6 separate regions of the Homo sapiens genome follow, and all the other regions are linked to region 1. The links come from fine-mapping of genetic effects on plasma protein levels. A gene starts in region 1. Each other region holds a variant in brackets. All regions are shown on one strand. Distances are from middle to middle. Region 1 holds the start of HYAL1 (hyaluronidase 1). Region 2 has its middle 29 kb from the start of PLXNB1. Region 3 overlaps KLHL18 (kelch like family member 18). Region 4 overlaps PFKFB4 (6-phosphofructo-2-kinase/fructose-2,6-biphosphatase 4). Region 5 overlaps IP6K1 (inositol hexakisphosphate kinase 1). Region 6 overlaps DOCK3 (dedicator of cytokinesis 3).

The links. PIP is the chance, under the fine-mapping model, that this variant and not a neighbour inherited with it causes the effect. The UK Biobank Pharma Proteomics Project read protein levels with antibody pairs (Olink). The fine-mapping took linkage between variants from a reference panel, not from the people measured, so its PIPs are less certain.
Region 2: its variant is fine-mapped to the plasma level of the HYAL1 protein (UK Biobank, PIP above 0.99).
Region 3: its variant is fine-mapped to the plasma level of the HYAL1 protein (UK Biobank, PIP above 0.99).
Region 4: its variant is fine-mapped to the plasma level of the HYAL1 protein (UK Biobank, PIP above 0.99).
Region 5: its variant is fine-mapped to the plasma level of the HYAL1 protein (UK Biobank, PIP above 0.99).
Region 6: its variant is fine-mapped to the plasma level of the HYAL1 protein (UK Biobank, PIP above 0.99).

The regions. Positions count from the first base shown.
Region 1 is chr3:50,302,890-50,306,994 of GRCh38, forward strand. HYAL1 (hyaluronidase 1) reads right to left here and starts at 685. Exons shown (of 4, transcript NM_033159.4): 1 at 577-685; 2 at 1-91. The coding sequence starts at 67. RefSeq lists enhancers at 169-1,103, 921-1,090.
Region 2 is chr3:48,399,395-48,403,499 of GRCh38, forward strand. No RefSeq gene overlaps it. Among named protein-coding and RNA genes, the nearest start is that of PLXNB1, 29 kb to the right of the region's middle. The variant C/T (reference allele first, on the strand shown) is at 2,122.
Region 3 is chr3:47,324,226-47,328,330 of GRCh38, forward strand. All of the region lies in intron 3 of KLHL18 (kelch like family member 18), which reads left to right. Among named protein-coding and RNA genes, the nearest start is that of KLHL18, 43 kb to the left of the region's middle. The variant C/A (reference allele first, on the strand shown) is at 2,070.
Region 4 is chr3:48,532,524-48,536,628 of GRCh38, forward strand. PFKFB4 (6-phosphofructo-2-kinase/fructose-2,6-biphosphatase 4) reads right to left here. Exons shown (of 14, transcript NM_004567.4): 8 at 3,733-3,940; 9 at 2,989-3,135. Among named protein-coding and RNA genes, the nearest start is that of MIR6823, 15 kb to the right of the region's middle. The variant G/C (reference allele first, on the strand shown) is at 1,940.
Region 5 is chr3:49,737,147-49,741,146 of GRCh38, forward strand. It overlaps IP6K1 (inositol hexakisphosphate kinase 1), which reads right to left. Exons shown (of 6, transcript NM_153273.4): 3 at 1,066-1,276. Among named protein-coding and RNA genes, the nearest start is that of GMPPB, 15 kb to the left of the region's middle. The variant G/A (reference allele first, on the strand shown) is at 2,239.
Region 6 is chr3:51,250,499-51,254,603 of GRCh38, forward strand. The region is part of intron 22 of DOCK3 (dedicator of cytokinesis 3); the gene reads left to right. Among named protein-coding and RNA genes, the nearest start is that of MANF, 130 kb to the right of the region's middle. The variant G/A (reference allele first, on the strand shown) is at 1,978.

The sequences.
Region 1 (4,105 bases):
TAAAGCCTTGGGCCATATCGAGTAAGGTCAGGAAGAGGGCGCAGATGGGAAGCAGGTGGGCTGCCATGGCACGGGACTGGTCGAGGACAACCTGGCCAGGGGAGGCAGAGCTGAGAACAGGTTGCAAAGTCTCCGATTCCCCCACTGCTCAGGGCTGGGGGGCTGAGCCCTTGCGCATTAATCCACCGCTGCTCTGGTTTCTGTTAAACATTGACCTGCAGGGCTCCAGGAGGGCAGGGGAGACGCATGGAGGGGAGCATGGCCACTGGAGGGCACATCCGAGTTGCCTCTCAGACCAGGCCTCTGCCATCTCCCACAGGACTTGCTCTAGCCTAAGCTCGCCCACCCCTGCTTCCCCATGAGCCACTGAGGCCATGACATATGTTCTGGGAAGAGTGGCTGACAGCCAGGCCCTCAGCCCCCAGGCTGACCCGACCAAGGGGGGGAGGCCTTCCTGTCTCTTCCACCAGAAATCCTGGCAGCCACTGGAGGAAGATCCAATGGCCTCAGTGACCAAGGACAGGTCAACCCAGCCCTCCTGTACACCCGCCAGTCTGCCCGCTCGTCCCTGCTGACCTTGGGGCTGAAGGGCCTTATCCTCCAAATTTCCTGACCCCAGGATGGGGGCCTAAGCAGGGCCTGGCCAGATTCCACCCCAGCTGCACCAGAGACTCCTGGAGGAAGGAGCCGCTGCTGGAAATTCTGAGCTTTTGTAGGGGGTCACCCCACCCAGGCCAGGGGCGGGCCAAGGGGCGGGCCTTGGATTAGGAGGCCAGGCCAGCCAGGCATCAGGGCTACCTCTGAATCCCTGGCAAAGGGATCTTGGTTGGGGGTGGGGCTGGGCCAACAGTGGCCCCTCCCACGCTGTCAGCACTAGGGCAGGGCTTTGTGGCCTTACCTAGGCTGGAGGAGGTGGGCAGGGGCAGACCCTGCTGGGCAGGCCTGTTTGTGACACTGGAGACCGGGTTCTTTCGTGTCTTGTGCTCAGGGAGTGTTCTTTGTCCACGTGGCTGCATCTGACATTGATGGGCCCTAGGCACTTTACTTTCGTGGATCTTTTCCTCCTTAAAAAAAATATTTTAAAATATGGCCAGGCATGCCAGGTGCGGAGGCTCACGCCTATAATCCTAGCACTTTGGGAAGCCGAGGTGGCAGATCACGAGGTCAGGAGATCGAGACCATCCCGGCTAACATGGTGAAACCCCTTCTCTACTAAAAATACAAAAAATTAGCCGGGCGTGGTGGCAGGCGCCTGTAATCCCAGCTACTCGGGAGGCTGAGGCAGGACAATCCCTTGAACCCGGGAGGCAGAGGTTGCAGTGAGCCAAGACTGCTCCACTGTGCTACTATACTCCAGCCTGGGTGACAGAGAGCGACTCCATCTCAAAAAAAAAAAAAAAAAAAAAAATATATATATATATATATATATATATATATATATATATATATGGCTATAGTCTTAGCACTTTGGGAGGCTGAGGTGGGAGAATTGCTTGAGCCCAGGAGTTCGAGACCAGCCTAGGCAATGTAGCAAGACCCCATCTCTACAAAAAAATTAAAAATTAGCTGGGCATGGTGGTATGTACCTGTAGTCCCAGCTACTTGGGACACTGAGGCAGGAGGAGTGCTTGAGCCCAGGAGGTCATGTCTGGGTTACACTATTATATATTAATTATTAATATATTTACATTTATATTCTTCTTCTGATTAAAAAAACATTTTGTGGGCCCCTGAAAGTACTGTGGCCCTAGGCCTTGGGTCTATTGTGCTTAGTGGATAAGTCATCCCTGTTGTAGGGACCTGTTTCTGAAAGGCACTGTGTTCATGAAGTCAGGGCTGTGTCATCACCCTTTGTATATGTGCTGGGTTAGTGACTGTGTCTTTGTGAAGCCCCATTTAGTGACCATCTGAGCCTCTGCACAAATTCCAGTGGCAAGTAGGTGTGAGTGTGGAACCCAGTGCCTGGGACTGGGTGTGTGTGAGCCCTGCTGTCTTGTGAGCATGAGATCCTGTGTTTGTGTGACCATGCATATGAGCTGTCAGTGAGCACATGCTTGTTCATTCATTTGTGGTTTCACTTGTTCAATATGTGAAAGGAAAATATCTTGGGCCCCTTCAAGCTGGGAACCGCTCAGGACAAATCTGCCTCCCATTCTATTCAAGTCATCCTTTTGCTTACAGACATAGATGCATATTATGATTGCCTCCATTGCCTCTTTTGGAAAGACTACCAGAAACTCAAAAGAATGCAACCATCTGTCTGTCACCTGCCTGTGACCTGGAAGCCCCCAGTGGGGGGCCGTGCTTTGAGCTGTCTCCACCTCTCTGGACAGAGCTTATGTACTTCTGTTTTTTTTTTATTTTTATTTTTTGAGACGGAGTCTCGCTCTGTCGCCCAGGCTGGAGTGCAGTGGTGCGATCTCAGCTCACTGCAAGCTCTGCCCCCCGGGTTCATGCCATTCTCCTGCCTCAGCCTCCCGAGTAGCTGGGACTACAGGCGCCCGCCACCACGCCTGGCTAATTTTTTGTATTTTTAGTAGAGACGAGGTTTCACCGTGTTAGCCAGGATGGTCTCGATCTCCTGACCTTGTGATCTGCCTGCCTCAGCTTCCCAAAGTGCTGGGATTACAGGTGTGAGCCACCGCGCCTGGCCTAATTTTTTTTTAGATGAAGTCTCACTCTGTCGCCCAGGCTGGAGTGCAATGGCATGATCTCGGCTCACTGCAACCTCTGGCTCCCGGGTTCAAGCGATTCTCCTGCCTCAGCCTCCAGAGTAGCTGGGACTACAGGCGCGTGCCACCACACCCAGCTAATTTTTATATGTTTAGTAGAGACAGGGTTTCACCATATTGGCCAGGCTGGTCTTGAACTCCTGACCTTGTGATCTGCCCACCTTGGCCTCCCAAAGTGCTGGGATTACAGGCTTGAGCCACCACGCTTGGCTAAGGTACTTCTTACGTATTGATAGATGTCTCATATCTCCCTAAAATGTATAAAACCAAGCTGTGCCCGGAACACCTTGGGCACATGTCATCAGGACTTCCTGAGGCTGTGTCTTGGATGCATCTTCAACCTCAGCAAAATAAACTTTTTAAATTAACTGAGAGCTGTCTCAGATTTTCTGGGTTCACATTTGGTAACTATGGATGGATTCTGTGTGGAGATGTCCTTGACTTTTGACTAATTGCCTATCTGTGCTTGGTACCAGCAGGAGCTAACTTTATGGCTCAAACCAATAGGACAATTTGCTGAGGTCTGGGAGCACCCCCTCCAGAGAATCCTTGATTTCTCAATTGGTTGAGATCTAAAGTTTATTTTGCTGTACAACTCTTTTTTTTTTTTTTTTTTTTTTTGGAGTTTTACTTGCTCCCAAAAGGAAAGCAAGTTTTTCTGCTTCCATGACGATGGAAGGCAGGTAACTCCTTTATGGAGTTTGAGCTCGCTTCCAACAGGGAAAATTAGTTTTTTTTTCCTGCTTCTGGGATGGTAGAGAGCAGTCTACAGCCTGAGACCCATCACTAGGTAAGAAACTGGCTTGGGATTCTGCCTTGCAATTTCCTTTAAATGACTAAAGTTAGCATTTAACAACCAGCTGGTGTTAACTTCTGCTTACACTTACAGCACTCAGAAATCATATACTTTGTGTGATCATTGTTACTTTAGCAGCATTTTGTTCTAGCTGAAATATGGTAATAAGATTAAAAAAATTTTTTTTGGCTGGGAGTGGTGGCTCACACCCGTAATCCCAACACTTTGGGAGGCCGAGGTGGGCGGGTCACCTGAGGTCGGGAGTTTGAGACCAGCTTGGCCAACATGGTGAAACCTATCTCTACTAAAAATACAAAAATTAGCCCGGCATGGTGGTGGGTGCCTGTAATCCCAGCTACTCAGGAGGCTGAGGCAGGAGAATTGCTTCAACCTGGGAGGTGGGGGTTGCAGTGAGCCGAGATCATGCTACTGTTACTCCAGCCTCAGTGACAGAGCAAGACTCCATCTCAACAACAACAACAACAACAACAAAAACACAAAAATTATCCAGGCATGGTGGCCCACACCTATAATCCCAGCTATTCAGGAGGCTGAGGCAGGAGAATCACTTAAACTT
Region 2 (4,105 bases), 1.9 Mb before region 1:
CTGGGCAGTGGGGAGGAACAAGAGGCCAGGGTAATTATTCCCCCAGCATCCTCCCTCTGAAGCTTCCACCTTTAGCCACAGCCCCACTGGTCCTGATGACTACTCTGTCCCTACCCCTAGAGCCCAGGACTGGTAACAGCTGTGCTTCACCATCCCTTATTGGCTTCCCAGAGCCTGCAGCTCTGTAAGTAGTCCCCTCATTAAACTCTCTTCCAGCTGCATCTTTCCTGGTACATGCTGTCAGTTTCCTGCCAGGAGCTGGACTGATCCAGCACTTGATAAATGTTTCTTCATTAAATCCTGCCAGGTGCCAGCTTGGGATCCAACCCCATGACACAGAGTGGCTCCTGCCACATGCCAGAATGTCCCTGCCCTTCTCTCCAGAGGCCCAGTCAGTGAGAGGAGGAGGAACTAGAATCCAGGTCTCCTGCCTCCCAGAGCAAGGCTCCTGTCACTCCACTCCCTGGGGCTTCTTGGGCCTGAGATCTTGAGGCAAGTCTGGTGGTGGAGGAGGTCTTGAGCAAGACAGGCTTGAATCCTCTCTTCCTGGTGGCACCCATTCACTAGGGCAGCAGGTGCCCCAGCAGCACCAACTCACCAGCATGGGTGGAGGGGCCAGGTTAGCAGGTTCCCAGGCACCTGCAGCGTCAGCCAGCATGCAGCTCCTGGCTTCCCACGGGCGCCACTGACTCAGCAGTCAGAGGCTGTGGGTAACACTGCTGCCCCCTTTGCCAGCTTATAGGTGACAGAGGCTTCTATAGTCACTCACCGCTGGATAACTACTCCCCTTTTTGTCCTTCACACACTTTCATAATCAATCCCTTATATTTAAATTCCTTCCATTGGAAACACCTAGAGTGGTTTCTGGTTTTTTGTTGTTGTTGTTGTTGTTTTCTTTTTGAGACAGAGTCTCATTCTGCTGCTCAGGCTGGAGTGTGGTGGCATAATCTCAGCTCAGGCTGGAGTGTGGTGGCATAATCTCAGCTCAGGCTGGAGTGTGGTGGCATAATCTCAGCTCACTGAAACCTCTGCCTCCCAGGTTCAAGTGATTTTCCTTCCTCAGCCTCCCCAGTAGCTGGGATCACAGGTGCACACAATCACACCCGGCTAATTTCTGTATTTTCAGTAGAGATGGGGTTTCACCATGTTGATCAGGGTGGTCTCGAACTCCTGACCTCAAGTGATCCACCCACCTTGGCCTCCCAAAGTGCTGGGATTACAGGTGTGAGCCACTGTGCCCGGCTGTTTTCTTGACTAGTCACTCACTGTTATCTCAACTATGTCCTAAGACATAGCTCACCCTAAAACCAGAATTCACGTTAAAGACAGGGTAAGATTACTCACTAAGCTCCAGCACTACTGAATTCCACTGTTGTGATTTCTCTCTCTCTTTTTTTGAAGAGACAGGGTCTCACTGTCACCCAGTCTGGAGTGGAGTGGCATAATCTTTCACTGCAGCCTCAAACTCCTGGAGTCCAGCAATCCTCCCACCTCAACCTCTTAAATAGCTGAGACTACAGATGTGTGCTACCATGCCCAGCTAATTTTTAAACAGTTTTCGTAAAGATGGGGTCTGGCTATCTTGCCCAGGCTTGCAATTTATAGAGCTCCAGACACCCTCATTGGTAGCTGCTTCTGATAAATTCCACACTATGGCCAGAAGATGGCAGCAAACCACCAGCTTCAGCCACTTACCTGTGGCCCAGGACACCGGACCAGGTTTCCAAAATCTGAGCTTCACATTCCTAGACCTCCAGAGGTTCTCTTCATGGCCACCTGGACAACTGGCAAACCATTCTGTTTCCTTACACGTGCACATATCATCCAGATAACTGAAACTCTTATCAATAAAACCCCAACATCACAACCAGGGCATAAATTCTCTTTCAAACATCATGGTGATATCCTTATCTTAGATTTTTGGTAAACATTTGGAATTGGATAAACCATCATCCTTAATTAAGACAGAGAACACTTTTTTTTTTTTTTTTTTGAGATGGAGTTTTGCTCGTCACCCAGGCTGGAGTGCAGTGGCGCGATCTCGACTCAGTGCAACCTCCGCCTCCCGGGTTCAAGCGATTCTCCTGTCTCAGCCTCCTGAGTAGCTGGGATGAGAGGCGC[C/T]CGCCACCACACCTGGCTAATTTTTTGTATTTTTAGAAGAGACGGGGTTTTGCCATGTTGGGCAGGCTGGTCTCAAACTCCTGACCTCAGATGATCCGCCTGCCTCGGCCTCCCAAAGTGTTGGGATTACAGGGGTGAGCCACTGCGCCTGGCCGACAGAACACTTTTAAAGAGAGATCCATAAAACATCGCCAGTCAGCTGACCTAGGTAGTTTGGGGTGTATTTGTTCTTCAATGTGGCATCCTTAGGGAACCTGGTGGAGGAAACACATGCATCAGCAGCCATTGGTGCCAAGCAGAACACAGCTAGGTTCCCTGTATCCCCCAGCACCACCCAGAGTCACCTGTTGGCACTGGCCAGTGGGATCCAGGTCCTGACCATTTGGAAGGTTTCAGGTGGCTTCTAAGAATTCCAACATTCATCAGCATAAATTCAGCTGTTATCTTAATTAGCACGATTATTTCAGTATCAGAAAATTAATAAAAATATAGAACTCCTGGGTCATGTAACCATTTGGACAATTATTCCAACTTTTAAGTTGGTGAAAACGCTTTTTAATAAAGCACATCACTCCATAAAACGCCTTAAGGAGCCCCGGGTGGTAATGAGAAACAAAGGCCCTTTGTATGCTAACAGGTTTGTGAAAAATGTAATAATGAGGGCACACTTTCGTTGCAGTCTTAATAAAAATTAGGAAAAGATTGATCAAACTGAATTACAAATGTTCTATGCTGAAATTGTGGTCATGACCCAAGTTAAGCGATCACAAATTCTTGCTGGTGTTGGAATCTCCATTCTTGGTCATGGTTTGGAGTGAAGACAGAATTTCCTATCTTCTTGTGCCAGGTTTTTCTTCTCTATGTCTGTTATTATAACAATGTTCTGTGGCGGCTGAGCCATGACTCAGTGAGTGACTCAAAGCACGTTCAGTACTCACCCCTCCCGCGGGCACGTGCCCAGGCTTGCAGGCACATGGCCCCCCTCTCCCGGGAGCCTTCACCTACCCCTAAAACCTGCAGGGGCCTGAACCTGGAACAGAGAGGCCTCTGGAACAGAGGCATGGCTCTGTCGAGGTCTGTGGTGCTGACCAAGGCTGCTTCCCTCTGTGTCTGCTTGAAGTCCACCCTCAAGTGGATTTCCCATCCACCCTGCTCCCAGAGATGGTCAAGATGGAGACCCATTCCATGGTCTCCAACGGGAAAAGTCAGGACCATTCTGGGTGGCTATGAAAACCTGGCCAGAGCATCCAAGCTCACATGCTCCCAAATGATGGCACCTGGCTGCTGACCTGACTGTGGTCCCCACATCCGGCAGAAATGGGAAAGAAGGGACAATGGAGCCACAGCGAAGAATAGCAGCTATGACTACCCCCGGCACAGACAAGACCAACATGGCTCCTTAGGGACAAGGACTTTGTGGATTGTAGGGGCAACCCTACAGTGGATGGCTTTATTTAGGGCCAAAAAAAGGCAGGGGATAGGAGTCCTCCTGGAATTCTATCAGTCTGTCTCTCTCTAAACACTCAATGAAGACCTCGAGGGGAGGTTGTGGTCTCTGTGCCAGACGAGAGGAAATGCTAAGGGTCACTGGGTTATGGAGGATAAGCAGAGGGCCAAAGGGATGATCCCTCTGAAGGCCTCAAGGCTGAAGGGCCTTCCTCTCATCTGCCAGGCAGAGCTGCCACCCTATCTCTTCTGTTCCATGGGGGGCTGGCCTTCTGCTAAGGCCGAGGGTGGTCTCAAGTCAAGAGGAGTATCAACCCCCTGCCCTACAGACCCAACTAGCAACATGAGACCAGATAAGACAGTCTCCAAGCTCACCTCCAGGTACAAATCAGGAAGAACCATATAAGGCGGCCTTCATGGAGGCAGACAGTTTAGGAGCCGGCCCTAGGATGCCCTGATTTGGAAGGCAACACAGAAACCCTAAGTCCAGGAACAGGACCATGGAAAATGGCCCTCGAGACCCCCTCTGCCTAGAGTT
Region 3 (4,105 bases), 3.0 Mb before region 1:
AGACTGGACTTAGTTCACCTCTTTTTCCCACAGAACTTGGAAAATGACTTCCTTTTTTCTTTTTCTTTCTTTCTTTTTTTTTTTTTTTTTTTTTTTTTTCTGTAAGGTAGAGCCCCAGGCTTGGAGGCCTTGGGCTTTACCACTGCTGAAATGACTCTGTGGCTAAGTAGGATTAATCCTGGAAAGGATTGTTGACGAGCCTCGAATCTTCACCAATGGACAACAGCTCCACCTAGGGGGCTTTTGAGATTGTCACTGTCAACACTGGATCCAGGCTATGTTGTAAAGTACTGTTATCTAAAAGTTGCTTAGAAAAGTGATTTTTAGGCCAGATGAGGTGGTTCATGCTGTAATCCCAGCATTTTGGGAGGCCAAGGCAGGAGGATTGCTTGAGGTTAGGATTTCCAGACCAGCCTGTATGGCAGAGCAAGACCCTGTCTCTACAAAAAAAAAATTTTTTTAATTAGTCAAGTGCAGTGGCTCACATCTATAGTCCCAGCTACTGGAGAGGCTAAGGTGGGAGAACTGCTTGAACCAGGAGCCCAAGGCTGCAGTGAGTTACAATCACCTTACTCCAGCTTGGGCAACTGAGCAAGACTCTGTCTCTAAAAACTAAAAAGAAAAAAGAAAAGTCATTTTTAGGCCAGTGCAGGTTTGCATGCACCAGTAGCATTTTAGGAATAAGTACTTACGCATAAACCTGATGTTTTGAGCCTATCTTTGACATTTTTTCATTCAGCCCTTCAGGACCCTTTCTGAGACCTAAACCTATACCTCTCCTGTTTCCTGCCACAGACTCCAGAGCCATGGCCTGCTTTCTGTTTTCTCACCAGTAGTTCCTATTATTGTCTCTGTTCCTTGGAATGATTCTCCCTGAGCCTCGCTACAGAATGTGATGGTGTCTCCCAGCTCCCCACTTCGTATGTGCCCTTGAAGGTGCATCATTTTCTTTTTTTTCTTTTTTTTTTTAAGGCGGAGCCTTGCTCTGTGAGACAGAGTGTCACTCTTGTTGCCCAGGCTGGAGTGCAGTGGCGCGATCTTGGCTCACTGCAAGCTCCGCCTCCTGTGTTCACGCCATTCTCTCGCCTCAGCCTCCCAAGTAGCTGGGACTACAGGCGCCTGCCACCACGCCTGGCTAATTTTTTGTACTTTTAGTAGAGACGGGGTTTCACCATGTTAGCCAGGATGGTCTCGATCTCCTGACCTTGTGATCCGCCCGCCTCAGCCTCCCAAAGTGCTGGGATTACAGGCGTGAGCCACCACGCCCAGCCGAGGGTGCATCATTTTCAAGATTTGATTGCCAGCGACTTGAGGAAAACCATTCTGAGCACCAGTGGAAAAGATATGTGACAGCACAGAGAAGCCACAATGCCATCAGAGTTCTTAAAGCCACAGTTCCTGAGGCTGCTCAGTCTATTACATCTTCAGCCCGCTGCTTTTTTTCCCCCTGAGGCTGGGGTTGACTTTTTCTGGTGGCCCTATTTCCGGCCTTCAAATGTATGGGCCTCCTTGCTTTTAGGCAAGCACTGGAGCTGTGTATTTTCTTGCTTTTTTTTTTTTTTGAGATGGAGTCTCACTCTGTCACCCAGGCTGGAGTGCAGTTTCGTGATCTCGGCTCACTGCCACCTCTGCCTCCCGAGCTCAAGCATTCTCCTGCCTCAGCCTCCGGAGTAGCAGGATTACAGGTGCCTGCCACCATGCCCGGCTAATTTTTGTATTTTTATTTATTTATTTATTTTTGAGACAGAGTCTTGCTCTGTCGCCCAGGCAGGAATGCAGTGGCATGATCTCAGCTCACTGCAACCACCACCTCCCAGGTTCAAGCGATTCTCCTGCCTCAGCCTCCGGAGCAGCTGGGGCTACAGGCGTGTGCCACCACACCCAGCTAATTTTTGTATTTTTAGTAGAGATGGGGTTTCACCATGTTGGCCAGGCTGGTCTTGATCTCCTGACCTCAAGTGATCTGCCCACCTCGGCCTCCCAAAGTGCTGAGATTACAGGTGTGAGTCACCACACCCAGCCTTGGAGCTGTGTATTTTCTGAAATTCTCTCAGAGGTAGATTGGTACA[C/A]CAAATGCGTCAATGAACCACGTCAGTAACCTGTTTAATTCAAGTCACCGCTTCCTGCCTCTGATAAAGCATTATGTCTTATGCTGTCTTCTTGCTTCCAAAGTCAAGCTGTGTCAGCAAGGAAGAAGGTTGTGATGTGGCTAATGAAAGACGTGGGTCTCCATCAACCCTGTAGCTGTAGGTTTATTTTCCCTCATATCTCCCTCCTCCTCTTGCATGGGCCCCTTTCCTGTGTGGCCGCTCTCCTTCCTTTTCCCCCACTAATTGCCTCACAAACAGGCTCCCCACGTCCCCCATCCTCTTGGATGTAAAAGCCCAGTTCAGTTAAGAAGGTGTGTTTTGGCTGGGTACGTTGACTCACGCCTGTAATCCCAACACTCTGGGAGGCCGAGGCAGGGTGGATCACCTGAGGTCGGGAGTTCGAGACCAGCCTGGCCAACATAGTGAAACCCCATCTCTACTAAAAATACAAAAAACTTAGCTGGCTATGGTTGCAGGCACCTGTAATCCCAGCTACTCGGGAGGGTGAGGCAGGAGAATCGCTTGAACCTGGGAAGTGGAGGTTGCGGTGAGCCGAGATCGTGCCATTGCACTCCAGCCTGGGCAACAAGAGCGAAGCTACATCTCAAAAAAAAAGAAAAAAAAAAAGGAAGGTGTGTTTTGGCCGGGCGTGGTGGCTCACGCTTGTTATCCTGGCACTTTTGGAGGCCGAGGCAGGCAGATCGCCTGAGGTCAGTAGTTGGAGACCAGCCTGGCCAACATGGTGAAATGCCATCTCTACTAAAAATACAAAAATGAGCCGGCCGTGGTGGCGCACGCCTGTAATCCCAGCTACTTGGGAGGCTGAGCCAGGAGAATCACTTGAACCCAGGAGGCAGAGGTTGCAGTGAGCTGAGATCATGCCGCTGCACTCTAGCCTCGGCAACACCAGGAGACTCCGTCTCAAAAAAAACAAAAGGGAAAAAAAAAGGTGTGTTTTGTGCTCAGTATTATGCCAAGCTAATCAAAGACACCCAAAAATAAGGTACGAGAATCCTAACCTGAGAAGGAGAGTTTGGAAATGAATGCCAATGGCTACGTTGATCATTGGCTCCCATATCCTTGGACTTGATCCAGCTTCTGCCCCGTGGCATTTTGAATCCTCCTCTCAGGTTGATGTCAAAGTGTTAGGAAATAGTGAAGCACATGCTGTAGAGGCCCAGGGAAGGTTTATCTTTATATCTGCCTTATATTTGTAAAGTGCTTTAACAAGTCTCATTCAATCACTATAAGTGCTTTAGGAGAAAGGCATTTGACAGATGACTGAGCTGACATTCTGACCTTCAGCGCTGTATTCCTCAGTGGCCATGAACTTTGCCTACATCTTGCTCTCTGCTTATGTTTCTGTGCTCTTCTAAATTCACATCAGTTTCCAAAGCAATGGACAGAGCAAGCTCAGGCTGGAATGAAATAACTATGTAGAATTTTGACTAGTCATAAAGCCAGGCTCCAAGGTACCTTGCCCATTCATTCAGTCCTTGATGGGTCAACTGCTAGGGGACAATAGTGAATATTGCTAAATAAATATAACCCTGTGCCTAAAACCTTAACGTCGGGGAAAAGACATAAACCTTTCTAATGAAGAAAAGCATGCCCGGCCAATTTTTAATCTGATCAATACCATCCCTACAGAGAATCAGTCATGGAGCCAAATAAGAATCCCCCAGGGTCTGCTGCTGTCACCAAGATTTTAGAATCGCACTGGGCTCGTTTGGAATTTTCTTAGATGCAACAGTAGTAAGAAAAACAAGCTGGGCACAGTGGCTCATGCCTGTAATCCCAGCACTTTGGGAGGCCAAGGCAGGAGGATTGCTCGAGCCTAGGAGTTTGAGACCAGTCTGGGCAACATAGGGAGATGCTTTCTCTACCAAAAAACACTTTTTTTTTTTTTTTTTAATTAGCTAGGTGTGTGGTTTCAGCTACTTGGCAGGTTGAGGTAGGAGGATCACTTGAGCTCAAGAGGTCAAGGCTATCATGAGCCATAATTGCACCACTAC
Region 4 (4,105 bases), 1.8 Mb before region 1:
TACAATAGAATCTTATTCTGCCTTAGAAAGGAAGAAAATTCTTAAGGCTGGGTGTGATGGTTCACATTTGTAATCCTAGCACTTTGAGAGGCCAAAGTGGTAGAATCGCTTGAGGCTAGGAGTTTGAGACCAACCTGGGCAATATAGTGAGCCTCCCTTCTCTACAAAAAATAAAAAAATTATCTAGGCATGGTGGTGTGCACTTGTTAGTCCCAGCTACTAGGGAGGCAAGAGAATCGTTGAGTCTAGGAGTTTGAGGCTGCAGTGATTTCCACATTGCACTGTAGCCTGGGTGACAGAGTGAGATGCTGTCTTAAAAAATAAACAGGAAGGAAACTCTTGCACAAGCTACAACATGGATGAACCTTGAGGATATTATGCTAACTAAAGTAACCAGTTACAAAAAGACAAATACTATATGATTTCACTTATATGAGGTATATAAAGTAGTCAAAGTCATAAAGACAGAAAGTGGTTGCCAGGGGCTGGGAGTAGCAAATAGAGTTATTGTTTTTCTTTTTAAAATTTTTTTAGAGATGGGGTCTCACTATGTTGTCCAGGCTGGAGTGCAAGGGCCAATCGTGAATGAAATCATAGCACACCACAGCCTCAAACTCATGGGCTCAAGCAATCCTCCCACCTCAGCCTCCCAAGTACCTGGGACTATAGGTGTGAGCCAGCACATCTGGCTTGAGTTATTGTTCAGTGGGTACAGAGTTTCTGTTTTACAAGATTAAAAGAGTTCTGGAGATGCATGGTGGTGAGAGTTGCATAACAATGTAAATGTACTTCATACTCCTGAAACGTACACTTCAAAACAGCTATGATGGTAAATTTTATGTTATGCATATTTTACCACAGTAAAAAAAAATGGAAAAACAAAAGCAGGGGTGGTAATATTCAAATTAGTCAAAGTATATATCCACAGAAAAAGCTTTTCATATTGAAATGGGAACCACCCATAATAAAGACCAAGCCATGATGGAGCAACTGGTACCAGATTTGCTCTGGCCCCAACAAAAACAACTATTATTAAAAAAGGACAAATTGGCAGGGCGCTGTGGCTGACACCTGTAATCCTAGAACTTTGGGAGGTTGAGGTGGGTGGATTGCCTGAGGTCAGGAATTCAAGACCAGCCTGGCCAACGTGGTGAAACCCTGTCTCTACTAAAAATACAAAAATTAGTTGGTGTGGTGGCGGGTGCCTATAATCCCAGCTACTCTGGAGGCTGAGGCACAAGAATCGCTTGAACCCGGGAGACGAAGGTGGCAGTGAGCCGAGATCGTGCCATTGCACTCCAGCCTGGACAACAGGAGCAAACCTCCGTCTCAAAAAAATAAATAAATAAAGGGACAAATCAAACAACTGTTTTTAGACACGAGACTAGGCAGGACTGTGATCCTTGAGAGAAGGGAAGCAAGCTGAGGGGAGGAGGCAGCAGCTTACTGCCCAGAGGCACTTCCTGGACTGCAGAGCCAAGCATAATGAAGAAATAATGGAAGATTCAAAAAAGGAACAAAATGAAATTCCTGGAGCTTCAAAACACCACATCTGATATGAAAAGTTCACTGGATGGGTTTAATAAAAATGCAGAAGTAAAGATAAGTGAATTTGAAGACATAGCAGTAGAAACTATCTAAATTAAAGCTCGGAAGGAAAAAAAGACAGAGAAGAAATGAACAGAAGAAATTAAAAAACCAGAAGTTCAGTGACCTGTGGGATGATACCAAACAGTCTAACACACACAGAGTGGGAGTCCAGGATGGGAGAAGGGGTGGCAGAAAATACCTTTGAAGAAATGATGGCCAACAATTCTTCACATTTTATATTTAGAAACCCAGAAATCCGAGAATCTCAATAAACCCCAAGGATGATAAACATAAAGAAAACCATACTGAGATACATCATAATCAAATTGCTAAAAATCAGCAATAAAGA[G/C]AAAATATTCCAGCCTAGGCAACATCATGAGACTCCGTCTCTACAAAAATTAGAAAAGATTAGCCTGGCATGGTGGCAAGTGCCTGTAGTCCCAGCTAGTCAGGAGGTTGAGATGGGAGGATGGCTTGAGCCCAGGAAGTTGAGGCTACAGTGAGCTATGATTGCACCACAGCACTCCAGCTTGGGTGACAGAGTAAGATCTTGTCTTGAAAAAAAAAAAAAAAAGAAGAAAAGAAAATATTAAAGGCAGTCAGAGAAAAAGGAGGTAACATTATATCCAGAAGAGCAAAGATGAGAATGACAACAGACTTCTCTTAGAAACAATGCAACCCAGAAGTCAGCAGAAGAGCATTTTTTTTTTTTTGAGACAGAACATCACTCTGTTGCCCAGGCTGGAGTGCAGTGGCACAATCTCAGCCCACTGCAACCTCTGTCTCCTGGGTTCAAGCAATTCTCCTGCCTCAGCCTCCCGAGTACGTGGGATTACAGGTACCCACCACCATGCCTGGCTAATTTTTGTATTTTCAGTAGAGATGGGGTTTCACCATGTTGGCCAGGCTGGACTCAAACTCCTGACTTGAGGTGATCCGCCCGCCTCAGCCTCCCAAAGTGCTGGGATTACAAGGGTGAGCCACCGCACCTGGCGAGAACAGCATCTTTAAAGAGACAAAGGCCGTGCTGGTTCACCTCATTTGTGTCTCCAGATCCCTGGGAGGTTGGCTATGGCTGACTGCAGCTACCAAGCTCCCGTGGCCGCTGATTTCTTGTTGAGCTAGACCATGAGGAACCCTAGCAGGAGGCCACAGGGAGGGAGGAGAGTGAGGTTGAGGTGTCAACTCCCAGGCTCACTCCTGAGAATGGTCTAGGGCTCACCCAAGGTCCCATCCTGTTAGGCTGCCTTTTCCTCTCTGCTCCCAGCCCCTAGGTTCCTGTATCCTTTCTCTCTCCTCTCCTTTGCCCAAGGGGAGCAATGGTCACTGTTGTTACAATATGATGCAGCAGCCCTGCGGTATCTGGGAGGTAGACAGGGAGGGAGGGACGGTAACTACCGCATCGATCTCGTTGAGGACCTTCCACTGTTCATAGGGCACACCCAGTGCCTCAGCCGTCTGGATTGTCCTCTTCATCTGGCTTGTCCAGACCTTCAGATCCTTGATATTTTGGTCACTGATGAACTGGGCTAGACTCTTGGCAAACTGAAATACATCATAAGCAAACTCAGACCCACAGGTCTTGGGCTGCCCTTAAAGCATCCCATAGCCGCAGGGTCCATGAGATCACCCTCGCCTTGAACACTCACTACAGGTTTGGTAAAAAGCATGAACTAACTTGTCGATGACACACATGCTGACACACAAGAACACAAGTGCTGTTCCTGTGCACCCTCCCAGACCCTGAGCACAGCAGCACAGTTACAGCTGAGACTCATCAGGGCCACTGCCTCCCCACAACCAGGTGCCCTGTGCTACGTGACCACTGAGGTCTCCCCTGGACTGTGGCACAGCTATCTGCTACACTGTATGGACTCAGGTCGCTCTAAGGGTGGCATGCCTCTGACAAAAGGGGCTCAGTGAGTGACAGCTCACATGGAAACCAGAGATCCAGGCATTTGCCTGTTGCTTGATGACCTTCCCTACATGATGGGAAGATTCTAGGTTGAATGAAGGTCATTCACCTCGACTGCACATTAAAAGAATGGGAGCCTAGCCCCAGCGCACTCACACATGCATATACCCAGCCACGCAGGGTACAAATGCAGGCCCGTGTGCGCACGCAGGGACACATGCACTGACCTCCCTGCCCCGAGGGGACAGTCCTGGGTCCCCGCCAATCCGGCCCTTGAGGTTGAGCTCGCTCTCCCCGTGCCGGCAGAGGTAGATGGAGCGGGGGGTCACGTGGATGTTCATGAGGTAATATACGATGCGGCTCTGGATGTGGTCAGCCACACGGTTCACCACGTAGCTCTGGCCCACATCCATGATCTTGATATAGGACAGGTCCCTGTCCAGAGAGAAAGTAGAAAGAGGCCTGTGAGCGTGGCCAGGGTTCTCACAGAGCACATCTGGCTAGCCACGGAATCTAGCTGCGAGGCCTTGCACTTCCAACCACCAGAGATTACAACCCTCAGGACCGTCAGCTGGTGTGCGAGTGATGGGGGTGAGGCGG
Region 5 (4,000 bases), 570 kb before region 1:
AGGATCCTCCCACCTCAGCCTCCTGAAGCATTAGGATTACAAGCGTGAGCCACAGCACTCAGCCTGGTTTAACTTTTTGAAGAACTGCTAAATTGTTTCCCAAGTGGCTGCACCACTTTACCTTCCTACCAGCAGTGTAGGAGGGTTCCATTTCTTCACATCTTGTCAACACTTTTATTGTCTGTCCTTTTGATTATACCCATCCTAGTGGGAGTTCATATTAATTCTTGCATGAAATTATCAAGACACATAATTTGAGGCTGGTACAGTGGCTCATGCCTATAATCCCAGCACTTTGGGAAGCCAAGGCAGGCGAATCGCCTGAGGTCAGGAGTTCGAGACCAGCCTAGCCAACATGGTGACACAACATCTCCACTAAAAATACAAAAATTAGCTGGGTGTGGTGGTGCACGCCTGTAATCCCAGCTACTTGGGAGGCAGAGGCAGGAGAATTGCTTGAACCCAGGAGGGAGAGGTTGCAGTGACGCAAGATGGCACCACTGCATTCCAGCCTAACAGCAAGACTCCATCTCAAAACAAACAAAAAAACATAATTTGAACTTACAAGAAAAATCAATTTCCAACACAACGGAAACTAAATTTTAGTTGCAGGGAAAGCGTTAATGACTGATATGATTCTCAGAGGTCTGACACAAAAACCATTAGGGAACTCCTGGTTGGACTCATAGCCCTTGGGCTTGGACATCCTGCAGGTCAGAAAGCATTTGGAGCCTCGCTACGAACTAATGTATTTCAACCTTCTGTCCTGTGGGTGGCAAGACATAATGAAAAGCCAGAGAACCTTTTGTCACCAGCACAGGGTGTCCCTGCTTCCAAACGGCTGAGAGAGCTTCACTTCCTCTCTCAACCAGCTACAGCTATACCCAGAAAGAGGCACCACTGGGGTGATGTGACACAGAGAAGAGGCTACACCTGTGTGGGTATCCCAAGAACACCAGTCATCTTATCCAACCTTGACTGTGAGCCCTGCTTCCCCATGATGTGTCAGGACTATGGAGACGTCTTGAGTGCTTGTACCAGCAGGACGAAACATGTACCTCTTACCTCTCAGAGGTCTCAAGGGACAGGCTGGCTTTCTCCTCCTTGTGGTCACTGCCACTGCCTGACCGGTGCAGGCTCCGGCGGGAGTGTTTGCGCCGAGGTTGCTCCCGTTCTGTTGTGTCATCCTGTTCCACAGTCTCACTTTCCACATAAGGATAGGCCACTAAGTTGATGTAACCATCACTGTCCCCCTCAAAACAGACAGATACCACGCCTGTTAAAAAAAGGGCAGTTGGTAAACAAATGTCAACACAGGCCGAGTCTATGCAGCACAGACTGTTGGCACTCACTTTCCCACACAGCATGAAGACATCACCTGCCCTGAACCAACTACAGATCAATATCAGAACAACAGCCAGCAGACAGTAACTTCCAGAAAATGGATGACCGTCCATCCCCAAGCTAAATCTGATGCTTACCTTTGTTCCTGGATAAGTCTATATTTCCCCTTCTCTTATCTGGCCCTCTCACTTTCAATTACTGATTTTTTGTACCATTCAAAAGAACTGTGTTCGCTAGGTGACACCCACACCTGGCATCACTTAACCCTCTAGTTACTTAAGTGCTTTATGCTGCCATTTCCTGTGTGTGTCCTCCTTTAGATCTAGTTTCCTTCTGCCTGACAGTGTCAGCCAAAGGGACATCAACACTTCTCCCTCCAAGACGGTCCAAAAAAATCTGTGTTCTGCCCACACTGAGCATCAGGCTATCCCAGCCTCACTACACAGAACTTCCACCCCTGGCATCTCGAAGATAAAACATCCTTCTGTTTGCCGTGCTGTATCCGTAATAGTTTTTTGTGCCCATTTTAATCAAATGGGTTGTTTGTAGTGTCTTCTGGATCTTAGTGAGTTAAAACACAAATAAGACCCCTCTCAAGTGTTCTTAATACAATTTAAAAATACATATATCCAGAAACTTGAGGAGGAGGTTTTGAAGGGAAAAAAAAGTAACTTGGTCTCACTTCCACATCCCACCTTTTGTCTGTCAGCTACATTTCTGCTTTTATACTCTCAGATGTACACAGTTGGCTCTATAATCTGAAAATCAGTGAGAAGCATTTATGGTTTATTTTTTGTAGAGACAGGATCTCCCTATGTTTTGTCAATTTCTTTTATGTTGTAGAATAATTATTGGCTTAAAGTTCTTTTTTTTTTTTTTTTGAGACAGAGTCTC[G/A]CTCTGTCGCCCAGGCTGGAGTGCAGTGGCGTGATCTCGGCTCACTGCAAGCTCCGCCTCCCAGGTTCAAGCGATTCTCTTGCCTCAGCCTCCTGAGTAGCTGGGACTACAGGCACCCGCCACCATGCCTGGCTAATTTTTTTGTATTTTTAGTAGAGACGGGGTTTCACCATGTTAGCCAGGATGGTCTCATCTCCTGACCTCGTGATCCACCCGTCTCGGCCTCCCAAAGTGCTGGGATTACAGGCGTGAGCCACCAGGCCCGGCCTAAAGTTCTTTATAATATTCTTCTTCTTCTTAAGAGACAGGGTCCCATTGGAGTGCAGTGGTGCCATCATAGCTCACTACAACCTCGAACTCCTGGACTCAAGTGATCCTCCTGCCTCAGCCTCTCAAGTAGCTGGGACCTCACCTGAGATCAGGAGTTCCACACCAGCCTGGCCAACATGTCGAAACCCCATCTCTACTAAAAATACAACAGTTATCCAGACATGGTGGTGCGTGCCTATAATCCCAGCTACTCAGGAGGCTGAGGCAGGAGAATCACTTGAAGCCGGGAGACGGAGGTTGCAGTGAGCCAAGATCAGCCTGGGCAACAGAGCAACACTCCATCTCAAAAAAATAAAATAAAAATAAAATAAAATTGTGGTGTTTGGGCCAGGTTCAGTGGCTCACACTGTAATTCCAGCTCTTTGGGAGGCCAAGGCAGGACTGCTTGAACACAGGAGTTCAAGACCAGCCTGAGCAACACAGCAAGACCCTGTCTCTATAAAATATAAAAATAAAAATAAGTTGTGGTGTTCAGTCAATAGATCGATCGATAGAAACATAAAATTTGCAATTCTTTTTTTTTTTTTTTTTTTTTTGGTAGCGACAAGGCTTGCTATGTTGCCCAGTCTGGTCTGGAACTCCGGGCCTCAAACAATCCTCTTGCCTTCGCTTCCCAAAGTGCTAGGATTACTGGTGTGAGCCACCATGCCCAGCCATTTAATCATTTTTAAAGGTACAATTCAGTGGGCATTAAGTACATTGACAATACTGAATAACCACCACCATTATCTATTTCCAAAATGTTTTTCATCACCTGAAACAAAAATGCTGTACCCATTAAGCAGTAACTCCCCATTTTCCCTTCCTCCTAGCCCCAGTAACCAAATCTACTTTCTATCTCTACAGATTTGCCTATTATGCATATTTCATATAAGTGAAATCATACAATGTTTGTTCTTTTGTGTCTGGCTTAGTTCACTTAGCATAGTGTTTGCAAGGTTCATCTGTGTCACAGCATATATCAGAACTTCATTCTTTTTTATGGCTCAATAGTATTCCATTGTAAGTATATATCACATCTGTTATGTATTATCTATATTGATGGACACTTGGGTTGTTTCCACCTTTTAGCTATTATGAATGATGCTGTTGTGAACACTGGCTTACAACAATCCATTTGAATCCCTGTTTTTTCTTTTTTCTTTTTTTTTTTTTTTGAGATGGAATCTTGCTCTGTCGCCCAGGCTGGAGTGCAGTGGTGCAACCTCAGCTCACTGCAATCTCCGCCTCCCGAGGTGATTCTCCTGCCTCAGCCTCCTGAGGAGCGGGGATTACAGGTGCCTGCCACCACGCTCGGCTACTTTTTGTATTTTTTAGCAGAGACAGGGTTTTGCCATGTTAGCCAGGCTGGTCTTGAACTACTGACCTCAGGTGATCTGCCCGCCTCCCAAAGTACTAGGATTACAGGCATGAGCCACTGCACCTGGCCACA
Region 6 (4,105 bases), 950 kb after region 1:
ATCCCAACTACTCACGAGGCTGTGGCTCAAGAATTGCTTGAACCTGGGAGGCGGAGGTTGCAGTGAACCAAGATTGTGCCGCTGCACTCCAGCCTGGGTGACAGAGCAAAACTCCATCTCAAGAGAAAACAAACAAACAAACAAACTCGATGAGTACTATGAAGGAAATAAACAAGATTATGGAACAGACTGGCTGGAAAGGAGGGTTTACTTCAGATCAAGGATTTGGGAAAGCTTCTCTGAGGAGGTGATCTCTGAGCTGAAGTCAGTGTTAACAGTTAGGGAGTGAGCACTCCAGACTGAGGAAACAGAATATTTAAAAGCCTAGATGGGAAAGGGCTTGGGTTTTGTTTTTGCTTTTGTTTTTGTTTTTTTATTATTGTTATTATACTTAAAGTTCTAGGATACATGTGCACAACGTGCAGGTTTGTTACATATGTATCTATATGCCATGTTGATGTGCTGCTCCCATTAACTCGTCATTTACATTAGGTGTATCTCCTAATGCTATCCCTCCCCCATCCCCCAACCCCACAACAGGCTCCAGTGTGTGATGTTCCCCACCCTGTGTCCAAGTGTTCTCATTGTTCAGTTCTCACCTATGAGTGAGAACATGTGGTGTTTGGTTTTCTGTCCTTGCGATAGTTTGCTCAGAATGATGGATTCCAGCTTCATCCATATCCCTACAAAGGACATGAACTCATCCTTTTTATGGCTGCATAGTATTCCATGGTGTATATGTGCCACATTTTCTTAATCCAGTCTATCATTGATGGACATTTGGGTTGGTTCCAAGTCTTTGCTATTGTGAATAGTGCCGCAGTAAACATACATGTGCATGTGTCTTTATAGCAGCATGATTTATAATCCTTTGGGTATATACCCAGTAATGGGATGGCTTGGGCAAATGGTATTTCTAGTTCTAGATCCTTGAGGAATCACCACACTGTCTTTTCCACAATGGTTGGACTAATTTACACTTCCACCAACAGTGTAAAAGCGTTCCTATTTCTCCACATCCTCTCCAGCACCTGTTGTTTCCTGACTTTTTAATGATCGCCATTCCAACTAGTGTGAGATGGTATCTCATTGTGGTTTTGATTTGCATTTCTCTAATGACCCGTGATGATGAGCTTTTTTTCATATGTTGGTTGGCTGCATAAATGTCTTCTTTTGAGAAGTGTCTGTTCATATCCTTCGCCCACTTTTTGATGGTTTTTTCTTGTAAATTTGTTTAAGTTCTTTGTAGATTTTGGATATTAGCCGTTTGTCAGATGGATAGATGGCAAAAATTTTCTCCTATTCTATAGCTTGCCTGTTCACTGTGATGATAGCTTCTTTTGCTGTGCAGAAGCTCTTCAGTTTAATTAGATCCCATTGGTCAATTTTGGCTTTTGTTGCCATTACTTTTGGTGTTTTAGACATGAAGTGCTTGCCCATGTCTATGTCCTGAATGGTATTGCCTAGGTTTTCTTCTAGGGTTTTTATGGTTTTAGGTCTAACATTTAAGTCTTTAATCCATCATGAATTAATTTTTGTATAAGGTGTAAGGAAGGGATCCAGTTTCAGCTTTCTACATATGGCTAGCCAGTTTTCCCAGCACCATTTATTAAATAGGGAATCCTTTCCCCATTTCTTGTTTTTGTCAGGTTTGTCAAAGATCAGATGGTTGTAGATGTGTGGTATTATTTCTCAGGGCTCTATTCTGTTCCATTGGTCTGTATCTCTGTTTTGGTACCAGTACCATGCTGTTTTGGTTACTGTAGCCTTGTAGTATAGTTTGAAGTCAGGTAGCGTGATGCCTCCAGCTTTGTTCTTTTGGCTTAGAATTGTCTTGGCAATGCAGGCTCTTTCTTGGTTCCATATGAACTTTAAAGTAGTTTTTTCCAATTCTGTGAACAAAGTCATTGGTGGCTTTATGGGGATGGCATTGAATCTATAAATTACCTTGGGCAGTATGGCCATTTTCACAGTATT[G/A]ATTCTTCCTATCCATGAGCATGGAATGTTCTTCCATTTATTTGTGTCCTCTTTTATTTTGTTGAGCAGTGGTTTGTAGTTCTCCTTGAAGAGGTCCTTCGCATCCCTTGCTAGTTGGATTCCTAAGTATTTTATTCTCTTTGAAGCAGTTGTGAATGGGAGTTCATTCCTGATTTGGCTCTCTGTTTGTCTGTTATTGGTGTATAGGAATGCTTGTGATTTTTGCACATTGATTTTGTATCCTGAGACTTTGCTGAAGTTGCTTATCAGCTTAAGTAGATTTTGGGCTGAGACAGTGGGGTTTTCCAAATATACAATCATGTCGTCTGCAAACAGGGACAATTTGACTTCCTCTTTTCCTAATTCAATACCCTTTATTTCTTTCTCTTGCCTGACTGCCCTGGCCAGAACTTTCAACACTATGTTGAATAGGAGTGGTGAGAGAGGGCATCCCTGTCTTGTGCCAGTTTTCAAAGGGAATGCTTCTGGGTTTTGCCCATTCAGTATGATATTGGCTGTGGGTTTGTCATAAGTAGCTCGTATTATTTTGAGATACGTCCCATCAATACCTAGTTTGTTGAGAGTTTTTAGCGTGAAGGGCTGTTGAATTTTGTCAAAGGACTTTTCTGCATCTATTGAGATAATCATGTGGTTTTTTGTCTTTGGTTCTGTTTATATAATGGATTATGTTTATTGGTTTGCATATGTTGAACCAGCCTTGCATCAAAGGATGAAGCCCACTTGATCTTGGCAGATAAGCTTTTTGATGTGCTACTGGATTCAGTTTGCTAGTATTTTACTGAGGATTTTCGCATCAATGTTCATCAGGGATATTGGTCTAAAATTCTCTTTTTTTTGTTGTGTCTCTGCCAGGCTTTGGTATCAGGATGATGCTGGTCTCATAAAACGAGTTAGGGAGGATTCCCTCTTTTTCTATTGATTGGAATAGTTTCAGAAGGAGTGGTACCAGCTCCTCTTTATACCTCTGGTAGAATTCGGCTGTGAATACGTCTAGTCCTGGACTTTTTTTGGTTGGTAGGCTATTAAATACTACCTCATTTACAGAGCCTATTATTGGTCTATTCAGGGATTCAACTTCTTCCTGGTTTAGTCTTGGGGGGTTGTGTGTGTCCAGGAATTTATCCATTTCTTCTAGATTTTCTAGTTTATTTGCGTAGAGGTGCTTCTGGTATTCTCTGATGGTAGTCTGTAGTTCGTGGGATCGATGGCGATATCACCTTTGTCATTTTTTATTGCATCTATTTGATTCTTCTCTCTTTTCTTCTTTATTAGTCTTGCTAGTGGTCCATCAATTTTGTTGATCTTTTCAAAAAACCAGCTCCTGGATTCATTGATTTTTTGAAGGGTTTTTTGTGTCTCTATCTCCTTCAGTTCTGCTCTTAGTTATTTCTTGCCTTCTGCTAGCTTTTTTAGAGAAGCAAGTGTTTGCTCTTGCTTCTCTAGTTCTTTTAATTGTGATGTTCGGGTGTCAATTTTAGATCTTTCCTGTTTTCTCCTGTGGGCATTTGGTGCTATAAATTTCCCTCTGCACACTGCTTTAAATGTGTCTCAGAGGTTCTGTTCTGTTGTATCTTTGTTCTCATTGGTTTCGAAGAACATCTTTATTTCTGCCTTCATTTTGTTATGTACCCAGTAGTCATTCAGGAGTAGGTTGTTCAGTTTCCATGTAGTTGAGCAGTTTTGAGTGACTTTCTTAGTCGTGAGTTCTAGTTTGATTGCACTGTGGTCTGAGAGACAGTTTGTTAAAATTTCTGTTCTTTTACATTTGCTGAGGAGTGCTTTACTTCCAACTATGTGGTCAATTTTGGAATAAGTGCAATGTGGTGCTGAGAAGAATGTATATTCTTTTGATTTGGGGTGGAGAGTTCTATAAATGTCTATTAGGTCCACTTGGTGCAGAGCTGAGTTCAGTTCCTGGATATCCTTGTTAACTTTATGTCTCGTTGATCTGTCTAATGTTGACAGTGGGGTGTTAAAGTCTCCCATTGTTATTGTGTGGGAGTCTAAGTCTCTTTGTAGGTCTCTAAGGACTTGCTTTATGAATCTGGGTGCTCCTGCATTGGGTGCATATATATTTAGGATAGTTAGCTCTTCTCATTGAATTGAT